Linked DNA regions of Homo sapiens. The protein of the gene in region 2 interacts with the protein of the main gene of each other region in a pairwise test. Each region holds a gene or a part of one and is shown on either strand. Other genes may lie near its edges.

The links.
Region 1: the proteins of ZNF711 (region 2) and KCTD5 interact in a two-hybrid assay, tested with the Homo sapiens proteins (one study listed by BioGRID).
Region 3: the proteins of ZNF711 (region 2) and PHF8 interact in binary tests that used the Homo sapiens proteins (3 or more experiments, as listed by UniProt).

Annotation. Positions count from the first base shown.
Region 1 is NC_000016.10:2,705,410-2,711,394, reverse strand, and holds the end of KCTD5 (BTB/POZ domain-containing protein KCTD5), read right to left. Parts: intron 4,098-5,985; coding exon 4,068-4,097; 3' UTR 2,365-4,067; downstream 1-2,364. UniProt on the Homo sapiens protein: Its interaction with CUL3 suggests that it may act as a substrate adapter in some E3 ligase complex. Does not affect the function of Kv channel Kv2.1/KCNB1, Kv1.2/KCNA2, Kv4.2/KCND2 and Kv3.4/KCNC4.
Region 2 is NC_000023.11:85,265,014-85,273,857, forward strand, and holds the end of ZNF711 (zinc finger protein 711), read left to right. Parts: intron 1-104; coding exon 105-242; intron 243-2,264; coding exon 2,265-2,402; intron 2,403-3,280; coding exon 3,281-3,328; intron 3,329-4,989; coding exon 4,990-5,133; intron 5,134-5,637; coding exon 5,638-6,815; 3' UTR 6,816-8,344; downstream 8,345-8,844. UniProt on the Homo sapiens protein: Transcription regulator required for brain development.
Region 3 is NC_000023.11:53,935,120-53,945,096, forward strand, and holds the end of PHF8 (histone lysine demethylase PHF8), read right to left. Parts: intron 9,125-9,977; coding exon 9,015-9,124; intron 8,284-9,014; coding exon of another isoform or gene 8,245-8,283; exon of another isoform or gene 7,496-8,244; intron 5,398-7,495; coding exon 5,061-5,397; intron 4,128-5,060; coding exon 4,039-4,127; 3' UTR 2,941-4,038; coding exon of another isoform or gene 2,862-2,940; 3' UTR 1,561-2,861; downstream 1-1,560. UniProt on the Homo sapiens protein: Histone lysine demethylase with selectivity for the di- and monomethyl states that plays a key role cell cycle progression, rDNA transcription and brain development.

The DNA.
Region 1 (5,985 bases), on a different chromosome or scaffold from region 2:
AGCCCCAGGCCCCCGTGGTCAGAGGGGAGGCTACAGGTTAGATGGTCTAGGGAGGGCAGCCCCTGCTGTCTTTGTGCTGAGACCCCACCCAGACCCAGGATGTCAACAGGCAGATGCCCGTGGGAGAGGAGCAGAAAACACTCTCTACAGAGACTAGGGGTTGAGAAGGGAAAACAGGGCTATTTCATGCAATTAACAGCTCCCACGAAGCATGCCGTGAGAAGGACGTTAGGAAGGGAATAGTCCAGGTTGCCACAGGTCCCTTTTCCATCCTGGGGCGGGGGTGCAGCTCAGACTTTGCACGCTGCTGCCAAGCAGGGCTCTGAGCCATCTGCCAGGTGGGCGGCAGCAGGGCCCCTGCCAGCTCCAGGAGGGACTCGAGGGAGAGCCTGGCACAGGCCCGCGCACATTCTGTGGCTCACAGGGAGGTAGGCAGAGCGGGCGGCAGCCTTCATCCCCAGGCTCAGCTGGCCCATGTGCACACATACACACACCATTCCCATGCCACTCACAGGCACACACAACACATGCATGTCACATGCCACACACAGGCACACACCACATACCAAGCACACACCACATGCCACACATCACATACAGCACACATGTGCATGCCACACACACCATGTGCACACAGGCACACACCACACCCACACCATGTACAGCCAGTAGGTACACACACACACACACACACACACACACACACACACACACACACAGAGCAGGAGCGGGAGCCCCAGGAAAGAAGTCTGTGGGCTCCATTCGGGCCAGAACTGCGGTGAGGGGTCAGCCACAGGCCAGGCCTCCCTGTGCCGAGCCCCAGGCCTGGGAACACTGGGGAGGAAGAGGTGGTCTGAGGGCAAAGTGACCCATCTTGGGGGGCACGGCTCAGTGCAGAGGTGCCGGAAGTCATCGTCCCTCACACAGATGCCACGTCAGGGCCTTGGTGGCTGCACTGTGGGGTCAGCTCTTCATCGCCCCAGCCGGCCACTGCCACGAGCTTTAGGAGGAAGGAGGGTGCTAGAAGTCCCTGCTGAGTGGACACCAATAAATGCAGGGATGTCAAGGAGGGTGGTGCCAGCCGCTGGAGGGCTCCAGTCATGGGCTCTACAGGAAGCCTGGGGAGGACGGGCACCCACGCAGGGCACCTGCATGTGCCCCGCCCCTGCCTCCTCTTCTGCCCCCACGCTGGCTTCCTGGAGCCACAGGGCTGGGCCCCAGTCCCCACAGCGGGCGGGCTGTGCTGGAGCCCAAGGTCTGAGGAGGAACAGGGCTCCCTCCCTGCCCAGCAGACCCAGCGGCCCTGAGCATCCTCGGCTTCAGGACCCAAACTGCAGGGCCTGTCTCCTTTACAGCCTTTTGCTTGGATGGGAAACCTGCTCCGGGCTTTGGCTGGGGACGCCTGCCACGCTGAGGCTTCTCCCAAGTGCCCACAACTCTACCTGGTCAAGGGGCTGTAAGGCCTAGCCAGGCTCCTGGTGGGAGTCGGGCAGCGGGAAGACCCCTTGGAGCAGAAACTGGGTCTCTCCCCTACTCCAAGCCCCGTGCCGGCCTCATGCTGGGCACCCAGAAGCCCAGTCACCCACTCCACCCCTCACCAGGGCCCTGGGGTCAGGCTGGGCCAGCCACACACCTGGAAACAGGATGGACAAGGCCACTACAGCCTGAGGCTCTGTGACCTCAGACAGCCAGGCCCTGGGGGACACCGTGAATGGGAATCTCCCTGCGGGGGGGCGGGGAGTCCAACAGCCAAGGCTTCGTGGAGCAGCCACCAGGAGGAGTCACAGCAGCTGGCGAGGGGGTGCCGGGACCCCAGGACCTTCTCGGGAAGCTCCTGCTGTCACAACCCAGGCTGCAGGCTAAAGTGAGGGAAGAGAGGTGGATGCTAACTTGAGGTATCAGGACTTTCAAAAAAACATCACTTGAGCCGCGCGCAATGGCTCACGCCTGTAATCCCAACTGCTCAGGAGGCTGAGGCAGGAGGATCACTTGAGCCCAGCAGTTCAAGACCAGCCTGGGCAACATAGCAAGACCCCTGTCTCTTAAGGAAAAAAAAAGGCCCTTGTACATGGTCTCCGGTCTCCCGGGATGGGGGTATGCTATCTGCTGGAGGTAGGTGAGGGGTCCAGGCAGAGTGGGGTGCAGGGATGGGCCGTGCAGCTCTGATCCAGTGACCCTGGCCAAGCCGGCACCCCGTGGATGGCCCAGCTCCGCCCTGGCCATCGACTGAGAGGCAGAGGCAGAGCCCTGAGTGAGCCGCCGCGGCCAGTGGGGCTGGGCGGCTTGGAGGGGCAGCACCTTGGTCCGAGCGACCCGGGGTGGCATTCCCCTGCATCTTAAGACCATAAACAGCTACTACGCGCATTCATAAATACACAATTTTATTTGCTATTTCCAGGGGAAACTTAGGCATTAAACTGTAAGCTGATAAAATACGATACCTAAAAAAGTATAAAAGTATAAATATCCCCTTAGAATAAATTTTAGTGAATTAAGTCTTAATATCTTTAAATTAAAAAAACCACAAGCCTATCTACTATGTCAAGGTCAAAAATCAAACAACGCTAAGCGGCCAGCAGCTCCCCAGAGAGGATGCCCAGGAGCCCCAGCGGCCGCCTTCCTCCCAGGCTCTGCTGGGGCTAAGTCTGCCTTCTAGAAAGGCTTTTATAAATTGTTTAAGCCAAACATTTAACAACATACAAGAGACCTTACAAAAAGAAGGAGGTAAGTCCTAATGCTGGAGAATTGGTTAATCAGGTGACTGGCAAAGAGGAGGATGAGGCCTAGGCAGGAAGTCTCCAGAAGCATTGGAAACCAGACAGTGTCAGAGCCTCTGACCTGCAGGCGGGAGGCCGGTGGTCAGTCTGCACAGTACCCCTTGGGAAGCCGGAGTTCCGGAAGCAAAGCGCTTGGAGCCCGCCCTGCACGCCGAGTCCCCAGACTCTGACAGGTCCCCACAGCCAGCTGAGAAAGGTCTGTTTTCAAAGCATGCGGGCAGCGGTTTCTAAAGGAATCCCAGCAGCTCCCACGGCATGTCGGGCAGAGCCCGTGCAGGTCGAGTGAAGTCCCAAACATCCCAGAAAGAGAGGGAAGGCTGCATAGTTATACAAAGAAAATGAGAGAGCGGCGAGAGAGAGGCATTTGTGATGCTCTGTAAACATCCCGAATTTTCACCGTGACGCAGACCTTCAGCTCCAGAAGCCAGTGGACAGGCCTCCAGCCCAACCTCTATGCCAGGCGTGACAAGGCACTGACAGACGCCAGCTCCCCGTGAGCCCGCAGTGGGAGGGGCGAGGCGACACTGCTACCTCGCGCTAACGGATGGAACAGATCAGTCTCCACGCGGCAAGCCCTGTGGGCATTTCCAGAGGAAAAACGCTGGGGAGTCTATCCACACAGAGAAGGGGTACAAAGTTCTCTTGCCTGGAAAATACAAATTGAGAAGCCTTGACTGTCCCGGGCTTGGTCAGGTGGGGTTGGAGCCCGTGTCAGAAGAAGGCCCGGCCTCGGAATGGCGCCGGGAAGCAGTGACGACGCAGAAGCCGCCTTTGTCAGGAGCTCTGCGAGGTCGAGAGAAACCAGCGATCCCGCCTGGGAGGCAGAGCAGACTCCCTGACCGAGACTAGGGCCTGGTGGTCGGACCAGAGGCCACGACGTGCTGGACACTGACGCGGCTGCGGCCGCTTCCTGCCAGTGAAGCCCAGGCTGCTTTTCCAGACTGTGTGTAGCACCAAGAACGCTTCCTTCACACGATCTTCAGGATCGAGCGGGCTGACTGGGAGTGTCTGCCTCAGTCCCACGTGGCACTTGGAAAAAACAGAGCGAGGCCCCCCCAAGAGGCAGCGCCCACCCGGCCGCCGTGCTCCCCCAACTTGGGGACGTCTGGCCTTGGACAGCTGGGCCCGTCTCTCACCACCCACCTCAGAGGCAAAAAAGGATTCACACCCAGATCTCTAGAAAAATGATCAAAAGCAGGTTTCTTCTCACAGCCAAGCTTCCTGGACATGGCAGTTCATTACATCTCGGGAAAACGTAAATCATTTCTTCAGCTGTCAATACTGTGTCCCTCACATCCTTGAGCCTCGTTCTTGCAAAATCTGAAAAACACCAAATGCATAAAATGAGGACTTGGGCTGAGGAGGTGTCCCTGACCAGGCGCCTGCTCCAGAAAACAGAGCCCACAGGCCTGGGGTTAGCTCGGGGAGCCCCGGGAACCCAGCGGCACTGGCCAGGGTCTTGGGGACTCAGCTGGCAGGCCCAGGACCTTCACCGGGGTGTCTGGCACATCTCCAGGCCCCACACAGGGAGCGCTCACTGTGCATGGCAGCCCCTCCCAGACCCACCCAAAGGCGCTGACTCTTGGGCCTCTCAGCCCACTCAGTCCTGGGCCTCAGACATGAAGCGCAACTCGGCCCGCGGGTCCCTCAGCAGTCCAGTCCCCCCTCCCCAATTAAGTCTCTCCCTCTGTTCCTCCATGCCCACTGCAGCCCCCACCCCCACCCCGACGCCCGGACCCTCCTGGAGATGCCCCTCACCCAAGCCCTCGGCCCTGCACCTCAGCCTGGCCAGCCCACCTCATGTGCTGGCCCCTCCCGACTGCCCCATGGAACAACCACCAGCCCTCAGAGGGCCCTACCCCAAGTGCAGATCACGCTGCGGGGATCCCCTCCTCATCTGTACCACGTCAGCCCTGCAGAGCCCACGGCCCCTCGGCCCCCTGCCCTCCCCACCCTCCAATCTCCTCAAAACTCTTCCTCAAGGTACCCTCCCCACTTCCCTCACCAGTGTCCAGGAACCCCCTGAGGCCACCCCCAAGTCGGCCTGGGCTCCCCTGAGGACAGGCTCAGGCGCTGGCCAATGCTGCTGAGGTGAACTCCCAAAATGAGCCATGGCAGCTCCAGAGACCAGGTGGAGGGGAAATCACCCCACGCTCCCGAGCAGAGAGCTTCGGAGCCAGCCAGCCTCACTGTGCGTGGCCCACAACAGCTGTCTCCATGTGTCACGTGAGGGCTGCCCAACACCAGGTAGGGCAGCAACGCCCACGCCCTCGCCGGGCACAGCCTCCCAGAGGTCACTGCCATGCCGCACTGACCGGAGAGAGGGCAGTGGTGAGAGGTGCATGCCACCCCAGGCTTGTTCCGAAGGCTCCTGGAGGCCACGTCCCCTGAGCTGCTCAGCCTGACTCCAATACTCCACCCCCCAACAGCTCTGCCGTTCCCAGGCGGGTGCCCCCCAGGCTCAGTGCCCTGGACCACTTCTAGCTCGAGGCTCCCACTCACTCTCCAGTGCCTCGGAGGAGCCCATCCCCCTGTGCGAGGGGCAGCACGTCCCTCCCTGGGCCAGGGTGATTCCCAAGTTTACTGGGATGTCTGGAGTTGACTTGGGGAGACAGTGCAGCCCCCAAGCCCCCACCAGCCCTGTGTAAAACTAAGTAGCGCAGCGGACAGGCCAGGAGCAGTGTGGCATCTGAGCATCCGGGAGCCCCAACAGCTCCCTCCTGATGAGGGCAGGAGACACCCTGGAGACCTGCAGCCAAAGTGCTGTCCTTCGCCCTCCCAAGGCCGGGAGCAGCACGGGCTACTCTAGACAGAGCCTGGGGTGAGACCCATCTTTTCTGGACACACTGTCTCCCTAGGCCATCTTCCACAGGAAGGTCCAACTGCAGACACCAACCAGGGGGCCCTTGAGGCTGTACCCCATGGCCAGACACCCCCACAGGCAGGCAGGCCCGGGTGGCTGAGGGGCTTGCAGGACACGGCTGGCCTGGGAGGCTTAAGCGCATCAGGGATGCCGCAGGATTTGGCAGCTGAGATAGGGGTCTGCTGTCTGCCGCACTGGTCCTGACCCCTTGGCCCTGAGCCTGTGGCCTAAGCCAGACAGGAAGGTCACCCACTAGGGCTGGCGGCACGAGTGGCACTCCCTGCCCAGCCCCCAGGAGGGGCTCTTGGGTTCACGACCACTGATGTCCACAGCCTGGCCTGGCAC
Region 2 (8,844 bases):
GAATTTATTTTTTTTCTAAGAAATATTTCTATATATTCTTCTTATTAATTTAGGTGGTTATTCCATGATACTTCTCTATTTTAATGCGTGTTTTAATTTTTAAGGTGGAACAGAAATTGTCACAGAGAGTGAGTACACCAGTGGACATTCAGTAGCTGGAGTGCTTGACCAGAGCCGAATGCAGCGGGAGAAGATGGTTTACATGGCAGTTAAAGATTCTTCTCAAGAAGAAGATGATATCAGTAAGAAAATAAGGGCACTGTAGTGACTTATCAGTAGCCATCATGCATTATTTTTAAAAAATCTCAGAGATACAAGCACTGTATAGGAACAAAGTTCAATAAAATAAGCCTGATCCTTTGACCCTTTGCTGTAAATAATTTAAAAGTGAAGGGTCCTTTTGACCATTCATTTGTACATGTATTGTTCAAATCACCAAACATTAAATAATATATCTTAGTATACTATACTAGAAATACAGAGATGAACAACATACAGCTCCTGACATCAGTGAAGCTCAAAAATATGTAATTACTGAGTACCTACTTTCTGTGCGTTACTGAATATGTTGCAAGATACTATCTCATTTAATTCTTACAACTCATATCTGAGGTAGGTGGTATTTTTCCTGTCTTATGGAAGGAAAAAAAAAGATTCAGGGAAAATAATTTATCCAAGATCATTCCAATATTAAGTGTGAAGGGCAGGATTTTAATGGTTATCTAACTCCACTGCCAATGTTCTTTCCACATGGCAGTGGGCACTGTTGGCTTCTCTCTGGATTTAGCAATTGAAGGGCTGATGGTTTGTTCTCCTGTCACTAAAGGGTTATCTTATGTAAGTATTCTTCCAAGCCAAGCTGCCAGGAGTTTGATTTCCTATGCTGTTGATGGTCTCCAAGCAGTTGCTGCTTAAGGTTTTGTGGGGCTAAGTACCACAGGACGATCAAACCTCCTCAGGTTTCCTTTCCTGCCATACCGCAGGTTTCCTTATGAAGACATTTTGCTCTCTGCCTACTTTCTCCTCACCTCAGTATAGGAATGCAGCCCTTTCCTAAGGCTATTCCTGTCTTCTTACTATGCTGAGAAAAACACAATATTGCCTTGCCCTAGAAGGCTAAGAGCCTCCATTTCACTGCATTAACTTGACAATATTGGGCTTTACCTGTGCTGCACTCTGATACCTACTCCAAGTTTCCTTCCCTAGAAGTTGTAGGGTGCTGAATTCCACCCCCAAACAGCTGAAAATATCAAAACAAATGAGTGGAGAAGATTCTGATGGATAGGAAAAGAGTTTAATCAAATAATTTCTATTTGATCTCTAAATTCTTTATTTTTTTATTTATTGGTAAGGAAAGGGGCACAGTAGGAAATGGAAGATTGAGGTTTAAGTTAACTTATGCCAGAATTCTATGGGAATGTGGGAAACTTAGACCAGTGTCTCTTTTTGGTTAATAGAGAGAAGACAAACTTGGGAGAAGAGGGATACTTTTTTCCCATGTTTTTCCCCACATTTCTTCTGTAGTCATCCAGGATCCCAGTATGTGAATCAAAGGAAAAGCAAAAATTCAAGACAATTTTCTATTTAACAAGTTAAATGTAAACAGATTATTTTATATAAAGTATATTGTGGCTCTCTAGGTTTAAATATTTTTTTTTTCTTACCGCAATATTGTTTTGTTCAATGAAGCTCATTTAATGCTTTCTCTCCTCAGTAGAATCTCTTAAAATCTGGCCTATTGAAGAGTGTCCACATATTCTTGATCACTAGCATTATATACATATATAATTTTTATTTTTATTTTAAATTTTTTTCAATTACAAGTATTTTTGGTGATTTTTATTACATGTATAGTACTGCATTTCATTTATAATACAGTATACGAGATAGTATGGACCACTTTCTAGTATTATTTCTATGAGAAATATTTTCTGAGTCCCAAAAGACTGTCAGGCAAATAAATGTATAATGCCTGATAGAATGTAAGATCATTCAGTATATTTCAAGCGCACATGTTTTTATAAAATTTTTAAAAGCCATTTCCATAGAACTTGGTTCTAAGAGGAGAATAAGAGTTTTGGTAAATGATTGTCTCCTAGTGGCACTAGCCTCCAAAAGTGCCTAATATAAATTGAAATTAAATTTATAAATTTTTAAATTAACCAAACTGAAATTTGAAAGTTGAAAGATTTACATTGTTTGGAATTTTTACCCACTTATTAAATATTTGGGGTTATAAACAAGCAATTATTTCTAAAATTTAGGTTGCGCTGAAATAGCAGATGAAGTTTACATGGAAGTCATTGTAGGGGAAGAGGAAGGAACTTCTCTCCCTGAGATTCAGCTTGAGGACTCTGATGTTAATAAAACAGTTGTCCCTGTTGTCTGGGCTGCGGCATATGGTAGGATACTGGCATTTTTTCACCTGATAAGTACATAATATGTATTTACTCAGCCTTTAGGCCATTAAATAAGCTTTGTGAATGCCACCATGAATTGGCTAATATAATAAAATGTTTTACACTGTGGACTGATTCATCTCTAGTTACTTTAGATGATTTTTCTACCACATACCTTGTACTATTTAAAATGAACCTTGCTTAATGCATTATGTTTTTCAGTATGATCTATTTTAAATCCTACCTGTATAAGTGAGTGCCATAAAAAATTTTATTTTTCTAAAATAGGAATATCCTTTGAAAATCGATCCTTCCTCTTTTGGAAAAACTTATTTCATTTATTAACTCTACAGATGATAAAGTTTTGGGGTTTTGAAAAAGAAACAGAAACCCAGGTATGCTCTTTTAGAAAGCATATAATGAAAGGTAAATTTATCAACTTATTTTTCCCTTTCAGTCTTATTTTATTTCATTCCTATGTAACGTACAAGATGGTCCAGGTATACTCTTTACTTTGAAAAATTTTGATGTTCAAATGCATTAATTTATCTAAACTTGGTTCTTCCAAAGGTTCATTCATTCAGTTATTTATTGAGCATCTTCAAAGTTAGGGGTACACTGCAGAAATATCTACCCAGTTTTCATTTAAAAAGTAAAATTGTTCTAGATGTTAACAATTCCAAGGATGCTGAACAGCAGCCCTTATTTTCAGTATGTGACATTATCTAACCTATAGGAGTGGAAGAACACAACAATTTTTTTTAACCCAAGGAATGGTGGGCAAAGTAAGATTTTGTAGATTAAGATGTGATCCACTAGTAGTCATTATAATTAGCATATCAGTTTGTAATTGGTCTTTTTTTTTTTTTTTTTTTTTTTAGGAGATGAAAGAAGAGTTTCCCGAAGGTATGAAGATTGTCAAGCATCAGGTAAGAGAGCATTGTATATGAGATGTGAGTTAAAGTTCTGGCTTTATTTTATTTTACTGCTTGGTAAGTAACAAGTTTGTGTCTACAGACACATTTGTTGGACTCTTACTTGCTTAGTCATACCTAATCTAGTTAGTTAGGAGTTTCTTCTTTGAGGAATTAATTTATGTGTGGACATAATGTGTGTTAATCTGTAAATGCAGTTCCATTTAGATTTCCCTCAAACTTTAAGCATCAGGCAGTTTATCAAATGGACCATAACAGGTTGCTATGGAAAAAATGAAATAAGAAATTATTTGGACAGAAAAGTAAAAATTATTCATGATATCAACCCCTTGTTAATGTTCTTTTTGGGGCAGAACTGTTTTCTTAATTTCTATGGCAACCAGTGCATTTATATATAACTGTTATATAAAACCCATGTGTCAGCTTAATTTTTTTTAGTTTTAATACACTCTATATGGTGTTGTTCTCTAGTTGATCTTCTTGTTAAGTTTTCTTAAGCAAGGAGATATTTTCTTATGATAATGTGTCATTGTTCTGTTTCTACCCTTGGGAAGTATTTGACTCTCTAAACTTAGGTGTTGATTTCGAGAAATTGATGAGAAGTATAGATCACAGCATGTAAGTTAACCTGACAGTTTTGTAGGTCTACATTTTTTAGCTAAATTGCATAAAACCACAATGGATTTTTGATAACTAGGATTTTATTAAGTACTTTTTAATGTATGCACTGATCACACTGAAATTGCAATAAATTGCCTACCATATGTTAACCCGTAAAATCAATCTTAATATGTAGTACTCTTTATATCAAGTACACTATTCTGAAGCATATCTGCAAGAGATCTGTTTCGTTTTTTATGCATTACACTTAGTCACCATAACTATAATGGTTCAGTAATATGTCTACATTTCTTTTTCAATTAATTTCATCAGCCTTCATTGGTAAAAAAAAATTGGTCTGATGCCAAGATTTTGTTTCAAATTCAGTTTCTTTTCTTTCTTTTTTTTCTTTTTCTTTCTTTCTTTCTTTTTTCTTTTTTTTTTTCAAGAGACAGGGTCTTCTTGCTCTGTTACCGAGACTGGTGTGCAGTAGCACAATCATAGCTCACTGCAACCTTGAACTCCTGGGCTCAAGCAATCCTCCCATCTCAGGCTCCTGAGTAGCTGGGACTACAGGTGCATGCCACCATGCCTGACCAATTTGTTTTTTGTAGAGACAGGATCTTATTATGTTGCCTAGGGTGGACTGAAACTCCTGACCTCAAGCAGTCCTGCCTCAGCCTCCCAAAGTGCTGGGATTACAGGTGTGGGCCATCATGCCCACCCCAAATCCACTTTCTTATATTACATTCATCTTATCAGTTTATTCCTGATAAAATAGAGATATTTTAAATTTAATTGATGATCAAATTGAGATATTTTAAAGTTAATTTCACATGATATCCTATTCAAAGTATTTACAAATACATGTCTTTACTTGTGAGTGAGAGAGAACAAGAGTGAGAGAGAGAAAGAGAATCATAAGATGGATATACTTTGTGAAATTTACTACCAGAGTGGTAACTTGGTGTCATGTCATCTGTAGTAACTCATTCAACAGAACCAAAAAAGTATAAATGTATGTGATTTAATGATGTTTCAATTTTTTTTTCCAGGAAATACTTTGGACTCAGCATTAGAAAGCAGAAGTAGTACAGCAGCACAGTACCTTCAAATTTGTGACGGCATTAATACAAATAAAGTACTTAAACAAAAAGCCAAAAAGAGGAGAAGGGGAGAAACCAGGCAGTGGCAAACAGGTAAATACTTTGCTTTATGAATATTATAATTATTTGAGATGTGGAAGTATTTTTTGTCACCAAAGAAAAATATCGATGGTTTACTTGGCAGTTCTACTCTCCATGTACCTGTTTGTGTATGCTATAGATAATTGTTTTTTTTTTTTTTTACTTTGTGTGACTGGTACTTAATAAAACTATGCTTGTTTGCTCTTTATTCCAAAGATACTTTTACAGAGAATTTTCAGGTTGGTTTAACAATAAAGGGTACCTGTTTTTGGTATTCAAAGTATATATGATATTGCATTTTGGCATGTGAGTGGTTCATAGTAGAGTGCTGCTCATTACTTTTTAGTGAGCTACTTTGCCATAAATTGCTTTTATTATGTATTTTTTATATTACAGGATTTCATTCAACTAGTATTGTTTTCACATAGTGAATGCCAACTAGTTTTGGCACCTTTGTTATAAAATCCTTTAAAACAGTCTGACCAAATGTCACAACTTTCTCTTTTCTTTATCTAGCTGTTATAATAGGTCCTGATGGACAGCCCCTCACAGTGTACCCTTGCCATATTTGCACAAAAAAGTTTAAATCCAGGGGATTCTTAAAAAGACACATGAAGAATCATCCTGATCATTTAATGAGAAAAAAATATCAGTGTACAGATTGTGACTTTACAACTAACAAGAAAGTGAGTTTCCATAACCACTTAGAAAGCCATAAGCTCATAAACAAAGTCGACAAAACCCATGAATTTACAGAATACACACGAAGATACAGAGAGGCTAGTCCACTGAGTTCCAATAAACTTATTTTAAGAGACAAGGAGCCGAAGATGCACAAGTGCAAATACTGTGACTATGAAACTGCAGAACAAGGACTGTTAAACAGGCATTTGTTGGCCGTTCACAGCAAGAATTTTCCTCATGTTTGTGTTGAGTGTGGGAAGGGTTTTCGACATCCTTCTGAACTCAAGAAACATATGAGAACCCATACTGGTGAGAAGCCATATCAGTGTCAGTATTGTATTTTCAGGTGTGCAGATCAATCAAATCTGAAAACTCACATTAAGTCTAAACATGGTAACAATTTGCCATATAAATGTGAGCATTGTCCCCAAGCATTTGGTGATGAGAGGGAGCTTCAACGCCATCTGGATTTGTTTCAAGGACATAAGACACACCAGTGTCCTCATTGTGACCATAAGAGCACCAATTCAAGTGACCTTAAGCGGCACATCATATCTGTCCATACTAAGGATTTTCCTCACAAATGTGAGGTCTGTGATAAAGGTTTTCATCGTCCTTCTGAGCTCAAAAAGCATAGTGATATCCATAAGGGTAGGAAGATTCATCAGTGCAGGCACTGTGACTTTAAAACATCCGATCCATTTATTCTTAGTGGCCATATCCTTTCAGTTCATACTAAAGATCAGCCATTGAAATGTAAAAGGTGCAAGAGAGGATTCAGACAACAAAATGAGCTAAAAAAACATATGAAGACCCATACTGGAAGGAAGATTTACCAATGTGAGTATTGTGAATACAGCACTACAGATGCATCTGGCTTTAAACGACATGTGATATCAATACATACAAAAGACTATCCACACAGGTGTGAATTCTGCAAGAAGGGATTCCGAAGACCATCAGAAAAAAATCAGCATATTATGAGGCACCACAAAGAGGCTCTTATGTAATAAGATCAATATAAAGAAAGAAGCTATTTAGGAGATATGATATGCTACTTGGGAGAAAACTCTCACTAACTGTCTCACCGGGTTTCAAAGCTTGATACTAAACCATGACTTTACATTCTTTGTATTAAAGATCTTAAAATATTTGAATTCACAGGGGATCCCATAGCCCTTTGAAAATTACTTAAAGAATTTAAGAAGCACTATAGAATGGTTACAGAAAAACTTCTTAAGTATCTGTGTAATAGTATTATATGCATACTTAAACTACAGAGGGGAAAAGCAAAGACAAATACTTTATTTGGCTGATTATGTTAGATACAAATGTTTCTGAGAAGAGAATACATAATTGAGTTTAGTGATGCTTTGCTATAGCAAGCAAACCCACTTTTATGCAATTTTAGAAATGGGGCAGGGAAACAAAATGTGGTCATTCATCAGTCACTTAGTCATTGAGCCTTTTATATTGTACCTGGAAATTAAATTCCAGCAATGACAAAAGTTTTGTGTATTCATTAAAAGAAAACTAACTGGAAAACAGGTTAGATTAATTCAGTACTATTAAAAAAGAATTCAGAGCTGTTAATATTTTATCACAGGATAGGATACTTAAAATATAGCATTCTGTGCTGAGATCTAAGGTGAAGTCTATAAAGATTAAAGTTCCCTTTTTTCTGATGTTCAAGTTGATTGTTGTTCAGTATGGCATATATGACAAAAGTATATTTGAGTCAAATGTGGCTTTCTAAAATGGATGCAACATTAGCGTTGCAAACAAAATCAGCACTATATTTCTTAATGATCTAAAGATTAATTTGAGAGAACACAGTTTTCTTAAATATTATAATGTCTAGAGTTTTTTTAGGACAGTCTTAGCAAGTATGATTGTTCTAGTCTTACTTGCTCTAATGTTTAAAGGTGCAATTTTATGCCATTATTGAAATTGATTTTTAAAATCTATATACCATATGATTAACATGCATTTTCAATATGAGGCAGTGTTTATGCAGTATTTAACAGAGCAATCTGCTGCCAATAGAGTTTGGAGGTGGATATTTAGTTTACAGTGTATAAACTTAAAATATGCATCCCTTTAACAACGCTTTGTGTTAGCATGCTGCAAATCAAAATGGCACTTAATATTAAAAGCTGGTTTAGGGAAATTTTATGAAAATCCTGTTCATAAATGTAATGCATATGATATGTACTTTTAAGTTTTAGTTGCTTCATGTTTACATTCAGCTGTTCAACATAATTAAAATGTAATTTTACTTCATGCTATATTGTGGCTTTGTGTTTCAAATAATGTTCACCTTTCTGTTTTTGCACCAGATAAGAATCAGTTCCTTGAGAATAAATTTTTTATCTTTCTTAACTTCAGAATATTAAATTTGGAATATCTACTAAAATTGTGTGTTATGTGGCTGTAAATGATGTACACGCTGTAAAATAAGATCGCTACTGTTATGTGGGATTATTATTTCTAAATGTTACTCATTGAAATGAGCATACAATAAAAAGCATTTATTGCACTTAATGGTTTTATAAGTTTATTTAAAGTTTCCATATTTTTTATTAAAAGACTTCACTTCAGAGTTACTTAGGCAGATTGGTCCTTTCTTTAATGTCTTGTTGAATTTTGTTCATGAACAACAACATGAACTAGGAATTTAAACAGTTACGATGACTATGTAATGCATATTTCTTAAGAATGTATGTTATTTGCTAAAATCATAATGAAATACTATAAATAAAAGTGTCCATTTTAAGATCTTAGATTTCATATTAGAGAGAAAACTAAAAGTTCTTAACTTGCTTAAATGACACAATCCTGAGCAGTGAATACATCTAATTATGTTCCCAATATACATTCAAAAGGAAAAGTATTGTTGTGTGTATTTGGCAAAGATTTCTGCAAATGAGCATAAAAATAACTTTCTATGTTCAAACCAGTGAGCATTTCATATAATTCTATATATATGGCACTGTTAGTTAAGACTCTTTGTCAGTTGAATTATTAATTATTAATTAA
Region 3 (9,977 bases), about 31 Mb from region 2:
TCTCCCAAATTACTTGGTTAGTCATTGAGAAGGAGGGCTCTTTAGCCACAAGTCCTGTGCACTTTTCCACTCCATACTGGAAAGGGGGATGACTGAAGTTGGGTGCCTCGTTTCCCTCCCAATTTTGAGACAGGAACCTCTGAACTGCTGGCACCTCCTGCCTGGACTGAGGAATAAGGTGACCAAGATTCTAGCTTATCCTCTAACCTGAGGCTGGTAAAAACAAAGCACGAAAAAGTGCTTTGTCCCTTGACTGAGGAAGGTGGGGTGGGAATTGGTGACAAAAATAACCCAGCCCATCATTCCTGCAAAGGCTTTAAAGCCCTTCTTTCCTGTTTCCTTTCTACCAGGAAATACAGTTCTCTATGCTTCAGACATGAACATTATCAAAACCCCACCTACTCCTGAGACAGACTGTGAGAACTGGAGGAGGTCATTTAACCAGTAGGTGCCAAAACCAGACAGCCTCACTCCAGACCCACAGAAGCAGAATCTCCAGGAGGAAGTAAATCTTGACTGGGTTCAAAATACTTTAATAGATGACCCACAGACAGTAAGCAGCCTGCCCTGGCTCACCCACAGAGTCAGGGTGGTGGTGAATTTGAAACTGAGGCTCCCAAGATCACCCTGGGAGCTCTCCTTAGGAGATAACTCTCAATTCTGCATCTTGCACATAACAGAGGCTTAATAAAGATCTGTTGGGTGCTTGAGCCTCAGAAGATTTTCTAATATGGTGAAGGCAAAGAACATAAGTTTTGGAATCAGGCAGATCCTGCTGCAGACCACTGGCAAACTTCAGTCTCCTTAAACTGTTAAATAGGACGAATATCCTCATGGGGTTTTTCAGTGAGGATTAAATGAGATATCCCTAAGTAAAATCCCTAGCCCAATGCCTGGCACCCAAAAGGCACTTAATATAATGGTAGTGTTTATCAGTGAGAAGTGGTAGAACAGAGTGGTAAGAATACACATTCTGGAACCAGGTTGGTCCCAGAATTTTCATGTATGATACAGGAAGGTTACTTTGTTTCTTCGCTGGCAGGATGAGGGTGTTGGTGAGGATGAAATGAATCAATAAAGTATTAAGAGCAGTGCCTGGCACAAGAAAACAAGTGCGATAATCGTGAAAACAAGCTCTGATAATTATATTCTTCTAACCCATGTACTGGCCCTAAGCACAGTAATCAAGTCCAGATTGCACAACAAGTGCATGGAAGAGAGAGGGAAAGAAAAAAAAAATCCCACATTCACAGAAAGAGGACACACTTGAAAAAGCAGTCTCTGGAAAGCCCTCCCATTGAACTTGTTAGGCCCCTTTGAATTATTGCACCCTTTCTTTTCTGCTCAGTCTGCTTCTGATGATCTACTTCAGGTGTGTGAAGCGTGTCCCTCCTGAGGGTGGGAATACCCTTCCCACTTCAAGCATAAGGCTGAGCACCAGGGAAATGCCTGACAACTTGCTGAGGGAGAGACAAAGAGTACAAGGAGAAGGCAGCACTCCCAGACCCTGCACCACACCACCACCCTCATCACAAAAAAAAAGAATGCCAAGCAAAGCAATTGCCAAGATAAATCACTTTTATCTCTATAGGAAAGGGAGGATCTAAAAAAAATATAAATTACATTAGTAACACAACATAAGAAAAAGACAGGGACAAAAACAACAGAGAAGTCTGAATGATGCTACCCTAACCTATTTATAAAAAGGCCCTGCATCAGAAATTCACAATCCTACCCACTTCTAAAAATATATTTAGACATGTACAGAAGCGGTGGGCTTGTTTTTAAATTGTTTGCTTTTTTTGTAAAAATATATTAAAGGTGAATAGAAATCCTCTCTCCCTTCCCCCTGTCCAGCCCCCAGCTAGGGACTGGAGATCAGGGGTAACTATCTCATGGTGTTCTAAACCTTGATTACTAACACTCCCAACCCCTCCCCAACTCACTTCACTTAGAACCTGAAACATTAAAAAAAACAAAAACAAAGACATCAGCCTCTTTGGAAAAGCATAACTCTGAGGGTAAACTTGCTTTTCATTGGAAACAACACAAAACAACAAACAGGGGGCTCTAAGAACCCAACTAAGCTAAATGAAACCCAGTCAAACAGAGGCTGGGTTTCAGCTCCACAGAAAACTTCTAACAAAGAAATAGAGGGAAAAGGCCGGAATCGGGGGGATTTGCTAGCAATTAGCTGCCTTTGAAAGATCAAGAAGGGGTGTTAATGGACAAAAGGGCTGGGGACCTGATCTTGGTTACAGCAGTCACCGCATAGTCAGGCAGTTGCCTATACAGGACAGAGGCTTCTCCTGCTCTCCCCTCACTACCCTCTGCTGCCTTGAAATCCCCAAAATAAGCAAAGCTGGGCAGAAACAGAGGGGAGGGGAGTAGGGACTCACGTGCTAGGGGGGAGGTAGCCAGGCTTTTTGCCTTTGGTGTGACTAGATGGAGAACTGCTTGGCCCCTGGGGTCCCCAAGGTAGAGAAAGCAAATGGGCTAAAGGAACCCCTGATTCCAAGGAAGGAAAGTAGAGGCAGGGCTATGGAGAAAAGAAAGACAAACTGGAGATACAAAGATGACAAAAGAAGCCTCACAAATTCCCTGTGGCCTGCATGGTAGCTATTAAATTCCCCAGAAGCATTGGGCAAGCTGGGGTGAGGTTGGAGTGGGTGGTACAGGTGGAAAGGGCAAGGGTACACTCCACTTGGGTAGTGCCAAATGGAGGTGGGGGGATGTTCTCCATCGAGTCCAGATTGCCAGTGAGGCAAGGCGGTGGGAGGTGGGGGCACTGTCTGGACAATGGAGACAATCCACGAAGGAAGGACAGGGGAAGGGGAGGATCGGATGGATGGTCTGCTCCTTCACGGATGGGCGTCTCTTCTCTTCAACTTGGGCTCGTGAATGGCCTGTCTGCATTCTGCTTGAACGATGACCTGTCGTCTGGAAGTGCAAAGGCCCAGGAGTGAAGATGTGAGTCCTGAGGTCTTCTTCAGACCAAGACCTCAGGTGGAGAAAGAAGCATGAAAAGTTCCCGATGGAGGACCCAGGTGTGGGCCGTCCCGCCACACCCTCCATAATGTCCAGGCTGTGCTCTGTGGTATAGGCGGAGCAAGCAGGCTGTAGGGCCAGGGTTATCTGCGTCATTGGCAGGTGCTTTCAGGTTTCTGGGAGATGGTTTTCCACCTGCCAGGGCCCAGCCACAGCCACAGCCACAGCCACGTGGATAATGTTCTACATGATTTCAAAATCCAGGCAAATCCCTGGAGCTCACCCTAAAACAAGTGGCCTCATGTGTAGCCAGCTAAAAGTAGCTTCCTCCAACAGGCTACAAAACCGTGGTCAAAGGCTTGGGCATCTGACCTCTCCCTACCTTGACAAGTGATAGGAATCACCTTTCTTTTGAAAGGTAAGTGAAGTTGGCATTTCTAGGCCACTTCTGGAAATGGCCCACAGTGGGGCAGGAAGGAGGCTCTAGGCCTTCCTCTTCATTTCCATGAAGCATTTGGCAAGAGGGGGCAGAGACCACAGCCTTCTCCCATGAGCAAGTCTGGAGGTGGGGCATGTCCACTGGACTGGGGAAATGGGGCAAACAGAATGGGTGGAGGTGGGCAGGCTTCTGGATATAGGGCTAGAGTTGCAGAAAGTGTCAAGCACTGGGCTTCCCACTTCATGGCTCAGGCTCCTTCATACCTCTCCTCATCCTGCCTTCCAGCTCTAGCGGGGGATGAAGAATAAAGAACAGACAAGGCAGGTGACGGGAGTGGTTTGGACGAGTAGAAAAGAGGGTTCTAGTCAGCTGGAAACCTCTCCCATTTACCTGCTCCTCAGTGGAGAAGGCAGGCAGGATGCTCTAGTGAAAGTGGGGAAGGGAACTAGAAGGAGTCGGTGGAGGGGTCCGTGCCTTTGGTAAGTCCCAAGAAAGCAGGACAATGCACCTCAGCACCTTGTCCAGGGCAGATAGGATCCAGGAGTGCCCCAAGAGTTGACAATGGAGAAGGCAATGGGGGTAAAGGGGTGAGGGGTGGGACACAGGAGGGCTCACAGAAGTAGTTTGCCATTTCTGTGGATTTTCAGGATACGGCCGAGTCTCTGCTTTGCTGTGGCCAGGCCCTTTTTGGGACGCTTTCCTGTGGGGGAAGGGAAAAGTAAGCAAGGGCTTTGGCAAGGGCTTCAACATCAAATCTGGCACCAACTGCCCTCAGGCCACCTCCCCTTCCTGTTTCTCTACCCACAAAGTTTCTCCATCCTTAGACCATATTGGGCAGGAAGCCCTCCTTAACTACTTCCAACCAACACCACATGCTTTGACTCTTCCTCCTATGACCTCCTGTAGCAGCAAGACTCCCTGATTACAGTTTGTCTAGTTCTTTTTCTCCACTGATTACTCTGGTCCCAATCATTTTCCTTCCAAGATCCTGCAGGGAGGTAAATGTACTTCCATACCCTCTTATCCTACCCACCAGGACTGGACAAGTGCCTGGTTAGTGATTAGAGCTCAGTGTCCCTGAAGTTGCCATCCCTAGGGCCTTGCTTCATTAGAAACTCTCATCTTCATCAGCCTTCAACATCACACCAACCTCCATGCCCTTGAGCTGCGTACTCTAGGGACTGGGCTTTGAGGACCAAAGTGAGGGAAAGGAAGGCTTCAGTCCTCTAACTCTTTGTTGTCTCTGTCTCCCCACATTAAATCCCCTCCCATGTCCTATTTGACTGCCTCCATATTTGATCAGTTCATCTCCTTCCTCTCCATTCCCTCTGGCAGAGCCCCAGGTACTCTTCCTGCCTGCCTGAACTTGTATATGTGCCTCCTCCCTAGAGTTCCCATCTCTAGCCCACCCTCTACCTCCTTCTGGCCACCAGAAGGATCTTTCAAAACTAAAACCTGATCTTGTCTGTACTTCAAATCAGTCAACATCTCTCCATGGCCCATAAGATCAAATCCAAGCACCTTAGGTTGGCCTTCAGTGTCCCTCCCTGGTATTGTCATCTACTAGAGCACTTAGGATTTAGGGCAGGTGGCTCTAAGATCCTTCGGTTCTACAACCATATGGCCGTTGTACCTTGTCCTGCCTGATTGCTCTGGGAGCCAACTGAAGGGCGCCGCTGGGTCAAGAAGACACCGGGGGCCATAGGTGTGGTGCTGCGGTTTGCCTGGGCCATGCCAAAGGCATTGGGACGAGCGGTGTACTCATGGTCAGCGAGACTTCCTGACAGGGCCTCTTGTTTAGGCTCAGGAGGAGGCAGGGGTGAGGAGGAGGTGACAAGTTGTGGTGTGGCAGCCACAGTGGGGGCTGGTACTGTCAGACTGAGATTGGAGTCTTGAGGGCGAGGCTGTTCTACCTCCTTCAGCAAAGGCTTCTTCTTGATATATTTCTTCTTTTGGGCCTTCTGTAGCTCCTGAAACACAAGCCAAGTAGGAGGAGAGATTAAGGAGTGAAGAAGACAAGTTCCCAGGAAAGGAACTAACTAGACAATGTCCAATATGGTTGTGCAACCTGCCACCCTCTCCCTTACCTGCACCAAGTCTAGCCTGGATGTACACACAGCACATAACAGGCCTTCCAATACCTGAGATCATCTCTTTGTTACCATCCATCCTTAAGTCACCACTGTCACTTATTAGTACAGTGCCAAGAAAGCTGTAAATGAATTTGGAGACTAGGATTTTGGTCCTAGTGTTGCCACTAATGAGGTAGACCTTGGACACGTCTAATGATAATAACTAAATTTACATCAGCAGCTGAGACACTTTATATACTTTATCTCATTTAATCCTCATAACAGCTCTAAGAAGAAAAAATCCTAATTTTACATATGAGAAAATGGAAGTGCAGGGATATTAAGTAACTTGAGCCCAAAGCCTCACAGCTGAAAAGTAGTTGGGACCACTATCTAACCAGGTCTATCTGAAGAGACACCTTGCAAACTTCTCAAAGTGGAAAATCTGAGCGTAGAAAGATTAGAAAGATTATTAGTTTTGGAATGAGATAAATCTGGTTCAAATCCAGGCTTGTGTCCCTAAATTGGATGACTATGGTCAAACTGACTAACCTTTCTGAATCTCAGCTACCTCATCTATAAAACAGGTAAAATAATATCTGCTTTTTAGGATTTTTGAAAAGATTAAGTGATGACATAAAAATACACAGCACATAGTAGATATTCGACAAGTGGTTAATTATTATTCTATCTTCATCTCTTATAATGGCTTCACTTCCTCTTGCTGGTCTTTTTCTTTTAACAGTGGGCTTGACAATCCTCCAGGTCACTGGGTCTAAAAACCTCACTTTGGGGATGGGAATGACAAATAAGGAGTTGTGTCACTTCTCCCAATACCTTGTATTTCAACCATCCACTGCCCTATGGATCTACTATCCACTGCATGGTGGACACTTGTATAGTGGGCATCTGGAGCCCTGAGAACCTGGAAAGGTGGTGCTGAGAGCATGTAAATCACTTCACCTTCTGAAATGCTACACAGCCACACAAACCAACTCAGTGATCACATTTTTTTGCCTTCTCTTGGCAACACAAGCCTAATCCTGCCTTCGGAAGATCTCACAGGCTGTGGCTACCACGGGCATTTCTGGGGTACAATAATAACAATATTAGTAATACATGTCAACCACTCTTCTATAATTACTCATTTAATACTTGTAAATACCCAAGAAGTAAGAATTATAATCCCATTTGAAGGATGAAGAAACTGTGGCACAGAGAGGCTAAGTCATTTCCCTAAGGTTACAGGACCAGTAAGTGGTCAAACTGGGATTCACATCCAAGCCATTTGGCTTCAGAATCTCTTCCCTCAGCCAAACTGCTATTCTAACCATACCAGGAACTGCATTTCTGTCCCTTTTTCTCTCACTTAAATCCAGAATTACCTCTTCATATCTAGATCACTAGCCTAAATTTTGCTACCTTTGCTGCCAATCTCTTTCACATATAATTTATCCAGATACTCCCACAGACAACTAGACCATCTTATGACAGAACCACTTTCACCTTGCCAATCCCGTTGCTCAAAAAGCTGTTAGCAGATCCCCGCCCAAGTTCAAACTCCCTGGCCTGACATTCATGATCTTCCACAGTCTGGCTGTTTACACTTAGCCAACCCATAATGATAATGATGAAAAAAGCTAACAGGCCTATAGTACTTACTCCATAACAACTGCCATTCTAAAAGAGCTTGTACGTACATTACCTCATTTAATCCTAAAATGAAGTCTATGAGGAAATGAGGCAAAGAGAAATTAACTTGCCCAAATGGTAGAACTATTACATAATTTAAATCCAAGCAGGCTGACTCTAGAATCCATTCTTATAATCATTACTTATTTTAACTAATTCCCCAACATGAAATCTCCAATACAGAAAGATCTGTTTCTTTCTTTCGTTCATTCATTCATTCACTCACCCACCCACCCCAATACTGACTAAACACATTTTCTGACCATAGTGGGGATACCAAGTTAAATTAAATATATTCCCACTCTTGAAGTATTCATAGTTTAATAAGAAACACCAAAACATACATTTATGATTGTAAGTACCACGAATGTTGTAGAAGCATATAGAAAAAGGCCTCTGAAATAAAGTGGTGGTAGGTAGTATGAAGGGCTGTTAGGTAAGGGATCTGATAGGGTATGATTCTCAATGGGTAAAAGGAACATCTTGTGTAAAGGCACAAAAGCATGAGACAATCTGATATACTCACTGAGGGGACTATGAGTATTGCAGTGCACTATGGCTGTATAAAAGGTGTGCATGAGGGGCTGGAAGGAGGTCAGGGAGATGACTAGAGACCAAATCAAGAGGACTTTAAGAGGGCTTTGTGTGCTATACGAAGGAAGTCCCTTCTTTTAGAATGCCTCCCTGGCCCCTACCAGAAGCTTAGCTTGCAAAGCCCCTCCCCAATTTCAAAACCTCTTCTTTGAGGTTATCTCTGATCATCCCAAACAGAATTTAGCTCCTTAAAAGGCACTAAGAGTAATTTTCACAGCTTTACTTAATTTATATTTATATAAAACAGTAGAACCCCCTTTTTCAAATTACAGCTTACACTGTATTGGGATATACATAAGAGACAGAAGTTCTGGTCAAAGAAGATTGCCAAAGATTTAAACACTATTTAAATAGGATGTAATGACTGAACTACATAAGCATTTATTTAAATAGAAAGTAATATGAAATTTGAAGTTAGAGGATATGAGTTTGAGTTGTCTCCTCCATTTACTGGCTGTATTATCCTGAGTCAGTTAATGAGAGCTTCATTTTCTTCACCTATAAAATGATGAAAATATCACCTGTTGAACAGGGCTATTGGGCAGATAGATTACATTACACATTATATATGGAAGCAACTAACAAAGCAGATGCTTAACAGTGCTCTAAGCTATAGGATATGGGATTAGGAGCTAACGGGATATTGATTGCAAGATAACCAGAGAATTCACCTCCAAAGGCTCCTAAGCACATTACGCACATTAAAGAACTTTTAGATGTAATGCTAGGAGATGAATTTGATTCTAGTGAAGATCACTCTTTAGGACAAAAAAAAAATTTGTGGGTGAAGATTAAGATAATATTATTTCATAAAGAGGACAAGAAAAATTTCTAATCAACCAAATTCCAATACTGGTGGGTGGCTGAGAACTTGAGCGTACTCAGCTGAGTCACCCCCTCAGGGCTTCATATGAGAGCAAAGGAAGGATCTGGTCCTTCTCATCTGAGAGGTTTTTACACACCAAAAAAGGTAAGTGGGTTTTTCTCTGGCCTAATATTTTCTTTCATCCTGAATCATGTCAACTGTGTAACCTGTGGAAGTAGCTTATCATTGAGTTGGGATAAGAGGGATTTAAGAGGGGGCTGGGATACTGCCAAGGATAAAGATCAAAGGTTACTCAATCCCCATTGAGACAAAGGTGGGATCCTATCAGCCTGCAGGTCTAAGTGTTGAGGCTCTAAGTCAAACTGCTATTAGTTGCAGGGTGACCTGGGGTGTCAGCACCTACCTGCTGGGCCAGCTTTGCAGCTGCTGCAGCCAAACCTGTCTCAATAGAGGCTACCCGGGTCCCCTCACGCACAGGACGGTCCTGCTTCGGCAGAGTTGGGGTCACGCGGGCTGCAAGGGAAACAGGATGAGAAGGTGTCACTAAGACATTTATCCGAAGGCTAGCCATATTCCCTACCTCCAAGCTCTCCAAAGGTACTCTCATTGGTCTTCCTGCTTCTAGCTTTTTATGAAGCCAGATTTTGCTTGCCATCACATAAGAACCTAATTCACCAATGCTCAAAGCACACACTGATTAAAGGATAAAGGTAAACCTCCCAGAGGGAAAAAGAAAAAAAATGTGAACCTCCTTTGGCTGGGCATGATGGTTCATGCCTGTAATCCCATTGCTCTGGGAGGGTGAGGTGGGACCCTGTCACTACAAAAAATTAAAAAGTTAGCCAGGTGTGGTGGCATGTGCCTGTAGTCCTAGCTACTTGGGAGGCTGAAGTGGGAGGATTGCTTGAGCCCAGGAGTTTGAGGTTACAGTGAGCTACGATTGTACCACTGCACTCCAGCCTGGGCAACAGAGTGAGACCCTGTCTCTAAAAATAGAACAATAAGCCAGGCCAGGTGCAGTGGCTCACACCTGTAATTCCAGCACTTTGGGAGGCTGAGGCAGATGGATCACTTGTGGCCAGGAGTTCGAGACCAGCCTCGCCAACATGGCGAAAACTTCGTCTCTACTAAAAATACAAAAATTATCCCGGCATGGTGGTGCACGCCTGCAGTCCCAGCTGCTCAGGAGGCTGAGGCATGAGAATTGCTTGAGCCTGAGAGGCAGAGGTTGCAGTGAGCAGAGATTGCATCACTGCACTCCAGCCTCAGCGACACAGTGAAACTCTGTCTCAAAAAATAATAATAATAATAGTAATAAAATAATAATAAAAATTGGCCGGCACGGTGGCTCACACCTGTAATCCCA